Regions from separate parts of the Homo sapiens genome. Here region 2 is reported to be linked to region 1. Evidence: microRNA targets listed by miRTarBase, many of them from high-throughput screens and not tested one by one. Region 1 holds a microRNA gene; the other region holds the end of a gene's coding sequence.
The links. The annotated mature microRNA hsa-miR-4529-3p reads AUUGGACUGCUGAUGGCCCGU and lies in region 1 at 2,924-2,944, opposite strand. An mRNA with a match to its seed (bases 2 to 7 or 8) in the 3' UTR can be bound and repressed. Matches are read on the target gene's strand: a 7mer-m8 pairs with bases 2 to 8, a 7mer-A1 pairs with bases 2 to 7 and ends in A, and an 8mer does both.

Region 1 (7,000 bases):
TCTGGAATCCTATGACCATGAGAGAAGCCTGCTTTAGGGTGAAGTTGACATGGAAGTGTCAGAGGTGAGGGGTACAAAGAACCATTTTGTCCTTGCTAATATAGTAGATCCACTGTATCTCAGATTGCACCTGATACCTGTTGAAGTTTTCAGGCTTTTCTCACCCCTAGGCCCTTCTCCAATCCTGATGCTAGCTGTTGACAACAGTCATTATTAAATAAATATCAGAAACCTCATCTGAATTCAAGGAATCTCCCAGCTCTTTCTAAACCCATACTTGCTCATTGTAACTGTAGCTCAGGCCAAGATGGAATAGACTACCTTGGTGAGGACAGGTGTATGAAGAATCACTGATTTAAAGATTGTTCATAACGTATCGCAGTCATTAGGCATAAGTCTATTTCTTGAGACATTGTAAGGGATTATTCTTGGAAGGACATAGGTCCAAAATGTTGAATTGGACGTCTAGGAGTCAGGGTGGTAAAAATGAAGTATATATTGATTAAGTGGAGAGTTACATGAGTAGAGAAGCAAAATGAAGCCGAGTAGAAAATTAAAGGTTTTGGGAGGAGTACTGCCTGAATTTAGATGTTTTTAAAGTACAGCTTTCTGTCTTCATGGGAATATCTTTTCGATATACTGAGAAAAAGAAATCCAGGTGTTCTTCACTTTTGTAAGCATCCTGGTTTTTCGTGCAGGGAGCACAGACAACAGGATTTCTTGCCAATCAGTTACCATTGTGAGGCCTGATTTTTCATCTGTAAAATGAGGATAATACAGTCTACCTGAGTAATGGCTGTGAAAGTTAAATGAAGCAATTTGAGTACAAATACCTCACAATGAATGATTGTTTTCATTGATGTGGTGGTAAATGTTTAATAACCTCTTTTTCAAAGAATAAAAGCCGTTATTGGTCATTTTTGCCAATTTCCATGGTGTAAATACTTCCAACATTGTGCCAGTTCCGAGTTACCAGTGTGTTACAAAATTGAAATGGAGTTAGAGAAATACACATATAATGCCGGAGAGCTCACCAGGATGCCACTGCTTTCTTTCCTTCTTTCCAAATTACATACATCCCAGATTTTTTTTTTTTTTTTTTTTTTTTTTGAGATGGAGTCTTGCTCTGTTGCCCAGGTTGGAGTGCAGTGGCACAGTCTTGGCTCACTGCAGCCTCCGCCTTCCATGTTCAAGTGATTCTCCTGCCTCAGCCTCCCAAGTAGCTAGGATTACAGGTGCCTGCCACCACGCCCAGCAATTTTTTGTATTTTTAGTAGAGACAGAGTTTTACCATATTGCCTAGGCTGGTCTCAAACTCCTGGCCTCAAGTGATACACCCTCCTCAGCCTCCCGAAGTGTTGGGATTACAGGCGTGAGCCACTGCACCCGGCCCATAAGCCACCACGCCTGGCCTATGCCAGATTTTGTACAAAGTAAAATCAATCCTTGTCCCCCACCACTGTGATACTAGGGTTTGTTTGATTTTAGTGACATCTGTATTAGGGTTGACACAGAATTAATAACTGAATCAATAAAGAGACCGGGAACAGGGCCACGCCTTACACAAGGTGACATGAAAAATGTTGAGGTGTAGCAGTTTATTCCCTTAGGTTAATCATGAACCTTTCTGTTAGGCCCCTTTGAAATTTAGTATCACTCTGTCCTAAATCACCAGTACCTTGCAAGTGTTGATTCTAGCCCATATAACTCACCTTTCTCAAAAATTCTGCTATGTTTGTTTTAGTAACCAAATACTGTATTTTATTTTCGTAAGATTTTCTTCCCAATCTAGATTATATATTTCAGAGAGAAAGCGTCCTATTTTATGTACATTTTGTATCCTTTTGGTGTCAAATATCATGCTATGACCATAACAGTAAGTGTAATACACATAATATCCTCCCCCCGCCCCCCCGCTTTTTTTTTTTTTTTTTTTTGGAGTTCCTACTGTGTTCCAGGTTCCATGGTAACATTTTCCTTGTTATCTGTAATCATCACAACAGTACTGGAGGGTAAATACGGTCATTCCCATTTTACAGATGAGGATACATTCAATGTGAGATGTTAAAGATGTTCTTCAGAATTTCCCAGGTAGCAGGCAGCTCATGGTATTCAAAAGGTAATGGTTAAGAGAAAGAATGGATAATGAATATCTTGTGTCTATTTTCTTGAGACAGACGAGACTGAGCAGCCTGAGAACATTTGGTGCTCAGAGGGAGGAAATGCTAAGAGGGGAAAACAAGTCTGAAAGGGAAAGAAGGATAGTTCAAAGACCAGTTTCCCCTGCTTCAGAATTCTGACTGGTGCCAGCTCTAACTGCGTATGTTTGCTTTACTTGGAAGATAGAATCATAGTGCCAGAATTCACGGAAGTCTGTTTTGGAAGATGCATTAGTCAGGGTATGCTAATTGCTGGAACAAACAATCCCCAAACTTCAGTAGCTTAACACTGCAGAGGGTTATTACCCTCCGGTGTCACAGAGCAACGTGGGTGGGCTCTGGTCCTAGCCTGGCTTCTTCCATGGCTCAGGTCTGCTATCCCCTAGGACCTTGGAGTTCACTAGATATTGGCATCAGGCTGATCAAAGAGGAAAAGGAGAGTGGTGCATAGACGATTACATGGGAAATTTTAAGGGCCAGGTCTGGACAAGGCAAGTATTACTTCTGCTCACATTTTATTGGCCAAATCCTAGTCATATGATCCCATGACTGCAAAGGAAGATGGGGAATTTCAGATTCCTAGGTGGTCACGGGCAGAAAGAGATGGGGATTGGTGAAAACATAGCCTGGCTTTAGCCACAGAGGGTTACACCAGAGGCCTGCAAGTTTGGTGACCACTAGTTTTCAGAGGTATTGGGTATTTGATAAAATCCAGTGTCTTCCAGAGGTTGAGCATGAGCCACATATAAATAACTTTCCCAGTGACGGGCCATCAGCAGTCCAATGAAGACATTGGGTCTTCATGTCTTCATTGGACTGCTGATGGCCTGTCATTGGGGAAGTTATTTACCTTCTCTGAGGAGAAAATAATAACTTGCATTTCAGAGTGGTTTGGGACACTAAAGGAAATCAGAAGATGGAACTGATTTGTTAACTAGAAATGGACATAAGTATTGGTTACAGGTTTAAAATGAAACTTGCAATGTTTGAGGAAGAAAGGGAAAATGTTAATGCAAAAACAAAAAAGGTAAAGAAATGGTGGGAAGTAGATTATTGGCACTTTTTCTTTGGAAACCCATTGCCATATTTCATGTAATTAAACTTCATTCCTTTTAATGAAACAATTCTTCTAAATAATACAGAGATTTCCCACCAATATAATATTTAACATTTATAATTTTCACCTTAAAGTTTGAACATTTTTAATTTTAAAACTGTTTGTTGCAGTTTAAATCTCCTTATGCCACAGAACTGTGGACTTTCTCTGGTTGCAAAATTCTTTACAGTGTCTTGAATTGAAAAGGGCTTAAGTAAAAAAAGCTGGGGGAAGTGGGGGCCTTTTACAAACAAATTACAACTCATTTGGTACAATAAGGATAATTCATTTTGTCTTGTTTTGCATGGCTGTATATTGTTTTGAATTCATTCTGCATTTCGGAAGCTTGCAGTATTTCTTTTCTGTAGGTTTCTTACTTGTAACTGCAGATTTCGCGGTTTCTTTTGTGTACCACTTGCCTCCCAGAATTTGGCCCAACAGTTTTGAGTAGCTGAACAATTTATCGGGGACAGATCAGCTGAAATGTGGCTCAACTTGAGTAAAGCAGAAGGAATGACATAAGGTTAGGTGACTGATGTGTGAGTTTTTGAATTTGATTTGGTTTTACATGGAAAGGTTGAAGCAATGATCCATGTATTCTAATAAAAATCATCAGTACAAATCAAATAAAATCTGGCTTAGTGGCTATTTTCCCACTGTATCACTCATGGCTAGCCTGTGCTGTTACAGACCACATTTGGCAGGCACGGCTTTTTCCTACAACAAATCTTAAAGTAACATTGCAATCTTTGCTGTGTTAAAAAGGCATCTTTTCTAATCAAACTGTCTGCTAATCTCATCAGATAAATCATTATTCTCTACTGACAGCTCCGGCTTTCCCGGAACCCCTTCCCTGCTTCTTGTTTTCTCTCAAGATGTCTGGTTATCGTCATTCTTCAGGTCTTTGCCTCTATCTCCTTTCACACTAATGACATATCTTCCATTCCTGAGGAAGAGTTACAGCTTTTTACCATTCCACTTACTGAATTGGTAAGACCAGTACCTCAGAGCAGCTCATCTCTTTCTGACCGGTATTCCACTAGTTATCAGATGGGCAAAAGGCAGGATGCATCCAAGTTGCAGACCTACTAGAACCAAAAATGCCTATTCCCAGGAATTTGATGTGATTAAACCTAAGAAATCATCAGTTGATGCGTTCTCATCTCTTTCAGCTGGACTAGTAAAGTAAGGCAGATGTATTTTCACTACTTCAGTAGTGAACATGTTTTATAGAACCTGAAAGTGAAAGTAAGGGAAGCAGCATGGTTTAGAGGAAACCTTGGTCCATTTTTCCGTCATAGACCTGTCCTGCTAGCAAAGTCCTGGGCGTTTCTTAAACTGATGGCAACTGCGTGTGCCCTGGTGGTGAAATGGTGTTGCAGTATGCCTGGGCACTGCCCTGTGAAAAAGGACACACAGAGGGGAGACTCACAGTTTTGTTTTCATTGCTGACATGGTTTAAAAATGTACGTTGCTAGCTGTGAAAACTCAGTCATTATAACACCGTACACCTTTCTTCTTTCAGCAAGTATTCCTTGTGAACATTAGCAAGTATTCTATTCTCTGTTAGAATTAAACAGGTAATCGTAATAGCATGAAAGGGTGAAAGTATGTCTTATGCAAAATAGCCTCTTTTATATAGGGCATCTACCAATTTTCTTGTGATTTTTGTTTTTTCCTCTTTTGAAAAATGATTTTAGTCTGCTCGTGTTTAGGTAGGTAACTTCTCTTGATCCCAATTTTATACTTTAAATGATCCCAGATATTGCATTTTAAATGAGATGAGTATATAAAAAATAGGAAGCAGAAAGCATAATTAAAAATTGTGGTTACATTATCGTGAGACCAAATGACCAGTCAGACTCCTCTGACCAATTTCATAGAAAATAAGGAGGTATCATTTGAACAAGTTGTAACATATGGGAACTGTTTTAAACACCATCATTGATATCAAGAAACTATTAGGAAATGCAAGTTTGTGTATCGTGTGTGTGTGTATGCTGATTTTACACACACAGGCACATGCACACACATGCACACACACATTTATAAGCCCAAGTAAGAGAAACCTTTGCCAATGTCTGCCAGGCATTTGGCTGAAGTGGAATTGTGAGGAACATTTTCTCAGCCTTTATAAATCACAGTTGAAATATGTCAGCACTGTTCAGTTTATAAAATGACAAGGGCTGTAGGCTGGGCATGGTGGCTCACGCCTATAATCCCAGCATTTTGGGAGGCTGAGGTGGGAGGATTGCCTGAGCCCAGGAGTCGGAGATCAACCTGAGCAACATAGTGAGACCCTGTCTCTACAAAAAATTCACTGGGTGTGGTGGTGTGTGCCTGTGGTCCCAGCTACTCAGGAGGGTGAGGTGGGAGGATTGCTTGAGTCTGGGAGGTTGAGGTTGCAGCGAGCCCTGATCGCACCACTGCACTACATATACCCTAGATGAAGAGCAGGACCCCATCTCAAAAAAAAACAAAAACAAAAAACAAAAAACAAAAAAACAACGAGGGCTTCATCTAAAGGTTAAAGGGACTGTTTCTACCTTATATTGATTATAACAAGTTAACTCACTCAATATTGTATGGTATGCTTATGCTGTATTGAATGGCAAAGTTCCTCTCACAGTCTTTTTTGGGGTCACCCTTCACTCTTCACTTTGTGAGGTGGCTAGTTCATTTGTATACCTGCTCTCTAAATGTGGGAATATATTCTTTTAAAAGTGGCAACTCAACTTATCTCCCCCTTCTAAAATATTTTAGATGTTTCCAATTTTTTTTTTTGTACGTCAGCCCATGGAAACCACACTAAATTTTTCTGTGTCATGAGTATGCTTGTCTCTGCATTTGAATTTAATTGGGAAGTGCCTCTGAAATGGCAGGTCTCCTTTTTACACAGTGGTTTACAGAATGTGGTGGGAGGAGGCACCAAATAGCCTGTTAGGATAGCATGGCTCCAAAACTGATTCTTTAACTTGCCTTTATACATTGCATTAATTCACAAGTGGATCAGTCCATCTTGTCTTCATCTTGGCCAAATTCCTTCAAAATTAATAGTAAAATATGCCTAAATATATTCTTGTTCCTGCCCTCCCCACTCCCACCTAGGTCACAGGGCTACAACTAATCATTGTCTCCATTGAAATGTCACTAGATGATCAACGATTGAAGAATATTTCTTACCAATTCAAATAGAACAGAAACTTCAGTCAAGTTTAGCATTTATTGCCCTACATTTCTGCGGCTGTCAAAACCAGTTGATCAGAGACGTGAAGATATGTAAGGAAATAGGAAGCTGTGATGGGTTATCGCTTGTCTAAGAGTGGTACAAGTGAGACTTGAGGGCATTATCACTTTTTACCTTATACATTTTTGTATTTTAATTTTTTTCAATAAGCACATACTTAAAAATTAGTTTGAATGTTCTTAACGAATCTTTCCATAGGTTACTGATTAGTTCAACAGGGACAAATTATAATCATACATTGCAGAATTTGCATGCCACTTTGACCAGGTGATCAAAATTGGCATAGCACATGAGGGGCAGACCAACATGCCATCAAGGGGCTCTGGAAGTGATGTCCTGGGAAGGACACCAGACCACTATTGTAGTATTATATCCACTGGAATATAATCATGAGGAAGCATCTGATCCTCCCAAATTGAGAAACATTTCCATAAAATAACTGGCCTGTATTCTTCCAAAATTCTAATATCACAGAAGGAAAAGGCTGAGGAATTATGT
Region 2 (10,392 bases), not on the chromosome of region 1:
TAGACTGCCGGGAGTAGCACCCAGGGCTCTGCTCCTGTTCCCCGAGAAGGGCTGTTCTCACTTGTCCTCCAGCCTCCTACGGAGACTGCAGTTAGTGATGCTGAAAGTGCCTCCCCTGTGGGGCTAGGAATGAAAAGCTATAGACACCTTTTTCTCTGAGATCTTTGCAAACCCAGGCGCTTTAGAGGAAAGAACACTGGCCTGGGAGTTTAAAGACCTGTTCCCTAGTCTTGATTCTGCTGTTGGCTTACTGTGTCACCTTGGGCAGGTCTCGTCATCTTTGATGTCTCACAGTTGCTTCATCTGTTAAACAGGGAGCTCAGTGTCTGTTTGTCCAGCTTCTCAGAGTTGCTGTGCAGCTCGGATGTGGCATAGGAAACAGCAGACACAGGGAGAGGGCAGCATAAGGCACTGTAGGGAGCAGTGGCCACATTTTCTGGTGAGTCCTGTGGCAGGAATGTTTGTGCATTCAGCACTGGAGCATTTACTCCCTGTCTGACACTGGGGTAGCTGCCATGAGGGGGATTCTAGTATCAGAGTCCCTCCCTTCTGGAAGTTTCCAGGGCAACAAAGACATAAGACAAACATCCTTGAAATGTTATCTAAAAACCCAAGATTGAAATAATACATACCACACAAGGAAACAGGAGAGTAGTCTAGCTCCATGTCCGGGGCTCTAGGGGTTCATAGATGGCAGCTCCTGTCCGGGGCTGAGGTTGGGAGGGGAGAAACAGGGGCAGAGTGAGTTGGTCTCTGGAGTGACTGTGCTTTTCCACCCTCAGCAGAGGAAGAACCGATGCTGGAACGTCGTTGCAGGGGCCCCCTGGCCATGGGCCTGGCCCAGCCCCGACTCCTTTCTGGGCCCTCCCAGGAGTCACCCCAGACCCTGGGGAAGGAGTCCCGCGGGCTGAGGCAACAAGGCACGTCAGTGGCCCAGTCTGGTGCCCAAGCCCCAGGCAGGGCCCATCGCTGTGCCCACTGTCGAAGGCACTTCCCTGGCTGGGTGGCTCTGTGGCTTCACACCCGCCGGTGCCAGGCCCGGCTGCCCTTGCCCTGCCCTGAGTGTGGCCGTCGCTTTCGCCATGCCCCCTTCTTAGCACTGCACCGCCAGGTCCATGCTGCTGCCACCCCAGACCTGGGCTTTGCCTGCCACCTCTGTGGGCAGAGCTTCCGAGGCTGGGTGGCCCTGGTTCTGCATCTGCGGGCCCATTCAGCTGCAAAGCGGCCCATCGCTTGTCCCAAATGCGAGAGACGCTTCTGGCGACGAAAGCAGCTTCGAGCTCATCTGCGGCGGTGCCACCCTCCCGCCCCGGAGGCCCGGCCCTTCATATGCGGCAACTGTGGCCGGAGCTTTGCCCAGTGGGACCAGCTAGTTGCCCACAAGCGGGTGCACGTAGCTGAGGCCCTGGAGGAGGCCGCAGCCAAGGCTCTGGGGCCCCGGCCCAGGGGCCGCCCCGCGGTGACCGCCCCCCGGCCCGGTGGAGATGCCGTCGACCGCCCCTTCCAGTGTGCCTGTTGTGGCAAGCGCTTCCGGCACAAGCCCAACTTGATCGCTCACCGCCGCGTGCACACGGGCGAGCGGCCCCACCAGTGCCCCGAGTGCGGGAAGCGCTTTACCAATAAGCCCTATCTGACTTCGCACCGGCGCATCCACACCGGCGAGAAGCCCTACCCGTGCAAAGAGTGCGGCCGCCGCTTCCGGCACAAACCCAACCTGCTGTCTCACAGCAAGATTCACAAGCGATCCGAGGGGTCGGCCCAGGCCGCCCCCGGCCCGGGGAGCCCCCAGCTGCCAGCCGGCCCCCAGGAGTCCGCGGCCGAGCCCACCCCGGCGGTACCTCTGAAACCGGCCCAGGAGCCGCCGCCAGGGGCCCCGCCAGAGCACCCGCAGGACCCGATCGAAGCCCCCCCCTCCCTCTACAGCTGCGACGACTGCGGCAGGAGCTTCCGGCTGGAGCGCTTCCTGCGGGCCCACCAGCGGCAGCACACCGGGGAGCGGCCCTTCACCTGCGCCGAGTGCGGGAAGAACTTCGGCAAGAAGACGCACCTGGTGGCGCACTCGCGCGTGCACTCCGGCGAGCGGCCCTTCGCCTGCGAGGAGTGCGGCCGCCGCTTCTCCCAGGGCAGCCATCTGGCGGCGCATCGGCGCGACCACGCCCCCGATCGGCCCTTCGTGTGTCCCGACTGCGGCAAGGCCTTCCGCCACAAACCCTACCTGGCGGCGCACCGGCGCATCCACACCGGCGAGAAGCCCTACGTCTGCCCCGACTGCGGCAAAGCCTTCAGCCAGAAGTCCAACCTGGTGTCGCACCGGCGCATCCACACGGGCGAGCGGCCCTACGCCTGTCCCGACTGCGACCGCAGCTTCAGCCAGAAGTCCAACCTCATCACCCACCGCAAGAGCCACATCCGGGACGGCGCCTTCTGCTGTGCCATCTGTGGCCAGACCTTCGACGACGAGGAGAGACTCCTGGCCCACCAGAAGAAGCACGATGTCTGAGACGGTGGGCGGGGCCGTGTTGGCTGAGAGAGGGCTGGGGTCCTTCGTGGTGGGAGTCGCAGTGGGCTGGGGGTGCCTGCCTAGTGCTGGAGTAGGGGACAATGGGAATCCTAGAGGGGATGGAAGACGCGGGGAGTGAGCTGGGTGGGCCCTGCTAGCGAGAGAGGTCAACCCCGGTGGCCAGGGAACCCACTTCCAAGCGCAGGGACGCCGGCCTCCAGCTGGTGTGTGCTAAGGCTCCGTCCTGACTGCCCTGTGCCCTGGAAAAGCAGCAATAGCATCCGCCCCTTAGAGCCCTCTGGCTAGAGGAGCCACCAGTGGAAAGGAAGACCCTCCATCCTCTGGTATTAACGCCTTAATGCCCCTGTCTTTTACTGTAAGTTACTTAAGATCATTTTTGGAAGCAGGCGTGGTAGAGTCCTGTAAATGAATGCTCTGGGCTAGATACAGCTTGGAGAACCTGCTGGCCTTGTTAGACAGCACTTGGGCCTTTGCCAGCAGCAAGAGGTGAAGCGAAGCCACTCTTACCTCTCCCTTCCCCTCCCACCTGCCCCCTGCGTAGGCACCCAGACTTGGAGAGACCCGTCTGCTGTTAATACTTCCATCCTCTTCCTTCCCAAAGAGCAGATCCCAAGGCATTTACTCCTTGGTCTGTCTCGCTTTATCTGTCGCCCCTCCCAGCGCTGAGAGCCTCCCCTGGCTGTCAGCAGCACTGTGTCCAGGCTCTTGTCTGAACACCGCAGCCCCTCCTTCGCTCCTTCCAGAGCTCAGCATGTCACGGCAAGGACTGCCGCATTGGTGATGGAGGGCCAGCTGAGGGGAAGTTGCTGGTGAGTTTCCTTTTCTCCATTTCTAGCATATGGACACCTGGCCTCTGCTTGAGCACTTAGGTGACAGGAACTTCCGCACCTCCTGAGGCCCTGGATGATTCTAATTGTTAGAAATTCTAATTGTTAGAAATCCTTCCTTATAATGAATGAATTCTGCTTTCCTATAATTTCTACCTATTGGGCCTTGTTCTGTTCTCTGGAACTAAACAGAACAACCATTTACCCCTCCTTTTCAAACTAGAGAATAAAGATTTGGTTTTAGAACTGGTGGCTGGGGAGTGTTACTTTTTCTGGGGGAGCTGCGACATGTCAGGAGGAGCAGCATGCTCTCCTCCCTAGAAGGACGGGGGGCTGTGGGTGGGGCTCTGGCCACAGGCCACATGCCCAGCTTGCTGAGCTCTGGCCCCCTGCCTCAGTTCTTCCCTGAGCATACCCAGGCAGTTGGGCTAATTCTCTGGGTGGTGGGCCGAAGCTCCAGAGAACTGTGGTGGGTGGAATGCTCTCAGCTTGGTCCCAAGATTTATGTTCTTGGTCACTTGCCCTCCTAGATGGGCCCAGCAACACCTAATCTTTCTCACCACCTGGGCCTTTATGAAACTACAGCAAGCACTATGAGCTCTTTTGAGGGGTGCTGGGTGTTAAACGGACTTTGGTTATACTTGGACTGTGCCTCCAGTAGTCCTTCAGAGGTTGGACAGATGAAGGAGCCTCTGGGAGGGGAGGCTGTTCCCTGCAGCTAAGACAGCACTCAGCTTCCACACTCCACACACCAGGGTTTCAGCCTTCTTTGAGGTTGTTGTCAAACCCAGCCTGGGTCCACTTGCCCAGTGTTTGCAAAGCCTAACACCGACAGTGAGATTTGCAGCCAGAGAAAGTAAGGCGTTTATTGCAGAGCACCAGGCGAGGAGAATGGGCAGCTAAGGCTCAAACTCCCTGATGGCTTTTAAGCAAGGGTTTTTAAGGCAGGGGTGGGGAGGTTTCAAAGGGAGTTAGGGGCTGAGGAATTTCTGGAACTTCCTTATCCATTTTCTGGTTCCAGTCTGTCTGAGGTCTACGTGCTGGCATTGTCACGTGGTGACATTGGTGGGGGTCCTGGCTCCTGAAAAACAACTCAAGGATATATGTCAAGATGTTATCTTTAGGCCAGGCATGGTGGCTCATGCCTGTAATCCCGGCACTTTGGGAGGCCGAGGTGGGTGGATCACCTGAGGTCAGGAGTTCAAGACCAGCCTGGCCAACATGGTGAAACCCCATCTCTACTAAAAATACAAAATTAGCTGGGTGTGGTGGCGGGCCCCTGTAGTCCCAGCTACTAGGGAGGCTGAAGCAGGAGAATTGCTTGAACCTGGGAGGCGGAGGTTGCAATGAGCTGAGATCGTGCCACTGCATTCCAGCCTGGGCAACAGAGTAAGACTTTGTCTCAAAACAAACAAACAACCCAAAAAACAAAACAAACAAAAAGATGTTATCTTTAGTTTCTATGAGGAAGCTAACATTCTGTGACTACTACTTGAGTGACTATTGTTTAAGCTATTATTACTTTCTTGCTTAGCGGGTTATTCATTCATTTCCCCAATTCATGGTTGTAGAGCTAGCTAGGTGCCTGGAATTTCCCTGGGAGGGACTCACATTTTTGTTTATTCTCATGCTTTTCAAGTGATGGGCAGAACCCAGCAGGCTCCTAAGTGGAGTCTCTGAGGCTGGGCGTGGTGGCTCACGCCTGTAATCCCAGCACTTTGGGAGGCCGAGGCAGGTGGATCACCTGAGGTTAGGAGTTTGAGACCAGCCTGACCAACATGGAGAAACCCTGTCTCTACTAAAAATACAAAATTAGCCGGGCATGGTGGTGCATGCCTGTAATCCCAGCTACTCGGCAGGCTGAGGCAGGAGAATCACTTGAACCCAGGAGGCAGAAGTTGCAGTGAGCCGAGATCGCGCCATGGCACCCCAGCCTGGGCAACAACTCTGTCTCAAAAAATAAAAATAAAAAAAAATTAAAAAAGAGGGTCTCTGCTCCATCTCAAGGTCAGGTCAGACTTTTCAGGTGCTAGTTGCTAGGCAGGAAAGGGGGCTGATTTGATTCTGTCCTACAGTGTCCCTGGCCGGCCTGCTGTAGGACTCCAGATTTCTGTGAGCAGTCACTCTGTATGCGTCCCTGAATTGGTGGTTTCATACAAATTTGAGTACCTCTTTTTACCAGGCATTAATAGTTCTTTTCTTGCCTGTGTTAGCAATTTCTGCATATATCTCCAGCATTTAGCACAGAGCACATAAGAATAACCACAATTTGTTGACGTGAGTGGCACCTGGTGAAGTTTACCTAAATTATCTCATGTGTCCTTGTGTGGGAGGTAGTCTTCTTTTATACATGAAAACATTTGCCCACAGTCATATAACTGGTAATCACCAGAGGCAGATTCAAATTCAAGTCTGTCTGACTCCTGAAACCTGTGCTCTTGACAACCGCTGTGTGCTTAGTGGATGAACGCTGCGTGCTGCTGTTTTTGGTTAAGTATTAAATGCCAACTGTGTGGGTGGGGCTTAAAGTGTGTAGGATGGAAAGAACAGCTTCAAAGCTTCATATTGGTTTATGGGGTTATGGAGCCACTTAAAAACCTGTGTAGTTGATGGCAAATTATCTGTCAAAGCCTGGGAGCAGAGGGCGTGGTCTCAAGAAAGCCCCAGTCACATTTTTTCTCTTTGTGGGAACACAGGGTTTCCAGGGAAGGGGAGATGGCCAGGAAAGAGTAGGTCGATGTCTGGAAATGATGGGCAGGGAGCAGGGGCGGGTCCTTGGGTTGGCACCTAGGTTAGTATTGGAGCCGTTAGGGACAAGGATGAGGGTGAGAGGGGATCTGACCAGGGGTCCTAACCTTTTGAAAAGTCCCGTTTAAAGGAAATAGTCTGGGATATGGGGAAAGCGGGGTGTGGGTGTCGTCAGTGCTTCACTGCCCACTGCTTGTTATGGGGATGGGAAAGAGAGGTCCAAAGGACGGAAAGGTCACACAAGTGGCCTTGAGGGGGCTGGTAAAGCAGGAACAGAGTCAAATTGTGCCTGGTTCCTTCCTGAGTCCCTTGGTGGGTGGCCCAGTGGTTCTCAAGCCCTTGCTCTGCCTGGTTCATCACCACAGCAGTCACTGGGGAGGACTGCCTGGGTTGTAGGGGTCTGCTGGCAGGAGCTGCCCATCTCTTCTGAAGAATCCACAGTTTTTCTTTGTTTTCTTCTACAATTACAAAAGCATTAAATTATCTTTAAAAATAAATAATTCAGATAATAATGTGAACGTTCTCCTTCATTCCCCTATTCCACTCTCAAAATCCTTTTTGTTTACACTGAGAAAAGTTTGAGGAGTATTCTCCTAACACTTTTTTCCTGTGTATTTGCAAACACATATGCAGCCTCTCCCCCTGGTATTTTTTTTCTTAGTGGAAATAGGATCCCAGAGGTTCTCCATTCTTTCCACCTCTGAAATACCCTTGGTCATGGGATGCCAATCTGGAGGAAGTCTGCTCTGTAAGAAGGAAACAGGCCCAGAGAGTGGAAGTGACCCCCACCGGTGGGGGTCCTAATTTCTGAAAAACAACTCAAGGACATATGTCAAGATGTCATCTTCAGTTTCTATAAGGAAGCTAACGTTTTGTGACTCTTATTTGGGTACTATTGTTTAAACTATTACTACTTTCTTGCTTAGCAGGTCATTCATTCACTTCCCTAATTGCTGGTTGCAGGGCTAGCTAGGTGCCTGGAATTTCCCTTGAAGGGACTCAAATGTTTCTTTATTTTCGTGCATTGAATGGGGGGCTGGTGGCAGACCCCTAAGAGAGGTTCCTGCTCTGTCTCAACACTTGTAGCCAGTGGCAAATCTGGAACTAGAATACTGGTCTCAGCAACAGGAATGTATTCCACAAGCCTTCGTAGAACCTCTTCTAGGTACTCTTCTAGAAAATAAGCTAGGTGTGGTGGTGCATGCCAGTAGTCTCAGGTGTAGTTCAGGTGGGAGGATCCCTTGAGGCCAGGAGTTTGAGGCTGAAGTGCGTTATGATTGTGCCTGTGAATAGCCACTGTACTTTAACCTGGGAAACATAGCAAGACCCCGTCTTTAAAAAAATAAACAGGAGAATGAGACTCCAAAGTGTTGATAGCTAGTGATGTGTGGCCTCTTTATAGGGTGTGTATGATTTTGTATTTTACAAATCCTTCTATAGATAATATAACCAAATTAACGGTAAAAACTCAGTAAGGTATGCAGGCAACTAGAAAATTATTAACCCTATTTTATAGACGAATAAGTCAAAGTCCAGAAACAGAAAAGTATCTTTTATAAAAAGTACACATGAAGTTAGTGACAAAATCGAATCTCAGTCCCCAGTTCCTGCTGTGCTACTGAGGCTAAACCGCAGCCGGGCCTGTGGCAAATGTTTAATCAGCTGTTGACTGAAGAAAATAAGGTCCGCCTGCCCAACAGCAACCGTTTGTAGAGTCTCAGAGGCCCAGCTTCTGTCTGTATCTACCTCATGCCCCAGAGGCAGCTTCTAGCAGCTCCGGAGAGCATCCTGCCAGTGGGAGTTGACCCAGCTGCGCCCCCTTTGAGGGAGAAGTGTGAGGAATTTCCTTACAATGGGGTGGGGAGTTGCGAAGATACTCCTTCCTGAAGGTCTGGCAGTCTGGACCGGGGTGGCAACTGGGCGGAGATGATTCCGCTCACGGGAACCCTACCTAGTAACCCGACCTAGTAACGTAACCTCAGAGCCGTTCCTCAGCTAGAAAACAAAGGGATTAGGCCGGGCGCGGGTTTGTAATCCCAGCACTTTGGGAGGCCGAGGCCGCAGGGTCACTTAAGCTCAAGAGTTCGAGACCAGCCTGGGCAACATGGCGAGACCCCCATCTCTACAAAATATTTAAAAAGTTAGCAGGTTGGGAGGTTCGGTTGAGCCACGGGTTCGAGGTTGCACTGAGCCATGATCGCGCCACTGGGGTCTGAGCGAGACCACCTCCCTGAAACAGAAAACGAAGGGGTCGGGTATAATGATTTCTAAGGTCCCTCGTAGTGAACCCTAAAAGTTATCACACCCCACGGTGGGGCTATCGCGGCTTGAGGGCAGCCACAGCCTCAGCCGGGGTTTCTGTCCGGGCCCTGATGGGTCCCCAGCAGGGAGAAACAGCGTCCGGCGCGCTGTGGCGCTCGGCGAACGTGCGCTGAGTTCAGGCGTTACAACGGGGTCGCACGCGGAGTCCAGGCCTGGCAGGGGTGCCAGGACGCCGCCGGCCATCTGGGGCCCGACCTCCCAAGGTCTCCTCCCCGCGGCCGGCGGCTAGCGCGCTCACGGCGCCCGGGCCTTGCGCGCCCGCCGGGGGCGAGGTCAGCCCTCCCCCCTCGGCTATTGGCTCCAGAGAACAAAGGAGCCGCCCCGCGGGCTGCTCCGATAGGGCCGGGCGGGTCATCTGAGCGGCGCAGCCAATGGAGTGGCTGGGCGGCCCCGGGGATGGCCAGGCCCGCCAGCCAATCAGGCACCCGTGCCCGCCCCGCCTGCCCCGGGAATGGCCAGGGCCGGGAGCCCGGTGCCCAAGTCGCCCTCGGGGTGGCAGTTCCCGTTAACCTTAGCCACAAAGTCAAAGGTATTTATTTCCCCGTCGCCTCCCTCCGAGTCCCTCTGCATTTTGGGCGGGGAGGGGCGGTGCGAGGGATGGACCAGCGCCCGGCCCCGCTCCTCCCGTGCTGCCTCCGCCCGGCCCGGGCTGGGGCGGAGGGATGGGGCGGGGGCCTGGGGTGCCCCGAGCCCCGCGCGCCCCCCGAGCCCCGGGTCTCAAGCGTTCCCTCTGCCCCGACACAGCCGAGGGGAAAGGGGCGCGGCCGAGGGTGGGGAGGGCGCCAGGCCAGGGCAGCGAGGTTAGGAGGGAGGCTAGTGAGAATGGAGGGAGGACGCGGTGGCGAGTAGAGGGGTCGCCCGCGGGCGGTCTCTCCTGGGCTGTCCCGTTGTTCCGAGTTCCCCGTCCCTGTTCGCCTCCCTGATAGATCAGTTTCTGGGGGCAGGAACCCCAATGCTCGCTGCAGAGTGACAGACACATAGTAGGTGACCAATAAATGTGTGATTAAACGAGCGGGGATAAGGATTGGGGGTGGAGATAAGTGAGAGGGAAGCACCGCAGAAGTTGGAAGTGTGTGGTGTCGGGTGTGGCGGAGAACTCCTCTCTAGGAAGATGGGCACAGCAGCCGCGAACTCGGTGGGGCGGGGTGCGGGCATCCCCTCTGTGAAGAACGTTGAGGATATCTACATGTGGAAGGTGTGGAGATGGGTCCTCCTTCGGCCCTTTGAGCAAGATGATCTGAGCTGGGGCTGGGTGTGGTCAGAGCCCCAGGGGTTGGAGGCGGACGACAGCCCAAGGCTTCACAGCTAACTGTTCCCATGTTCATCTGTAAAATGAAGAGATTAGATGGCAGTTGTCTCCTTTCAGCTTGAAGGTTCATGCTTCCGTGCTTCAAATCTGTTTTGTACTGAAATTTCTTTTATTTAAGTGTTCCCTTATGACAGTTTTTATTAATGGATTACTGTGTGTGGAGCCTGTACTGGGTGCAGGGGAGAGAGAAGGACCCTGTGTTAAGATGCATGTAGTCTTGTGCAGACTAACAAATTGATGACAATGATGATTCCATGTAGATGGTCCTAGGTGCACAGGTTAAACAGAGAAGGGATTCCTGGCTGTGCCTGGTGTGTCCAAAAAGGCTTCCTGGTCAAAGCGATCCCTAATCTGGGCTGGGAAGGGGAGAACTGAGCAAGGGCCTTCCAAGGTTGGTCACAGGGTGCGAGGACACGGTGAGTTCAAGAGCCACGAGAGGATGGGGCGTGTCGGGGTGCAATGGGGAAAGATGAGCAGAGTTGAGTTCTCAGTTCCCTCTTATCCGAGGTGTGCGTGCCAGCAAGTCCATTTGGTGGGGGTCTGGGTTTCTGAAAAACAACTCAAGGACATATGCTAAGATGTTACCTTTAGTTTCTTTAGGCAACCACACGTTTCGTGTGGTCTGACTTCCTTGCTATTATTTTAGCTACGATTACCTTCTTATC

Region 2: the mRNA of REPIN1 is a reported target of hsa-miR-4529-3p. The part of its 3' UTR that is shown has no 7-base or 8-base seed match.

Annotation. Positions count from the first base shown.
Region 1 is chr18:55,475,214-55,482,213 of GRCh38, reverse strand. It overlaps MIR4529 (microRNA 4529), which reads right to left and starts at 2,993; the gene lies at 2,916-2,993. The region is part of intron 3 of TCF4 (transcription factor 4); the gene reads left to right. All of the region lies in intron 1 of TCF4-AS1 (TCF4 antisense RNA 1), which reads right to left.
Region 2 is chr7:150,370,446-150,380,837 of GRCh38, forward strand. It overlaps REPIN1 (replication initiator 1), which reads left to right. Exons shown (of 3, transcript NM_001099695.2): 3 at 783-3,594. The coding sequence ends at 2,500. ZNF775 (zinc finger protein 775) reads left to right here and starts at 8,885. Exons shown (of 3, transcript NM_173680.4): 1 at 8,885-8,947. REPIN1-AS1 (REPIN1 antisense RNA 1) reads right to left here and starts at 2,498. Exons shown (of 4, transcript NR_183429.1): 1 at 2,396-2,498; 2 at 633-710; 3 at 260-411. It overlaps ZNF775-AS1 (ZNF775 antisense RNA 1), which reads right to left. Exons shown (of 2, transcript NR_183445.1): 2 at 9,400-9,743. RefSeq lists enhancers at 1-365, 2,893-3,012, 3,073-3,222, 7,874-8,033, 10,044-10,103 and a silencer at 8,444-9,253.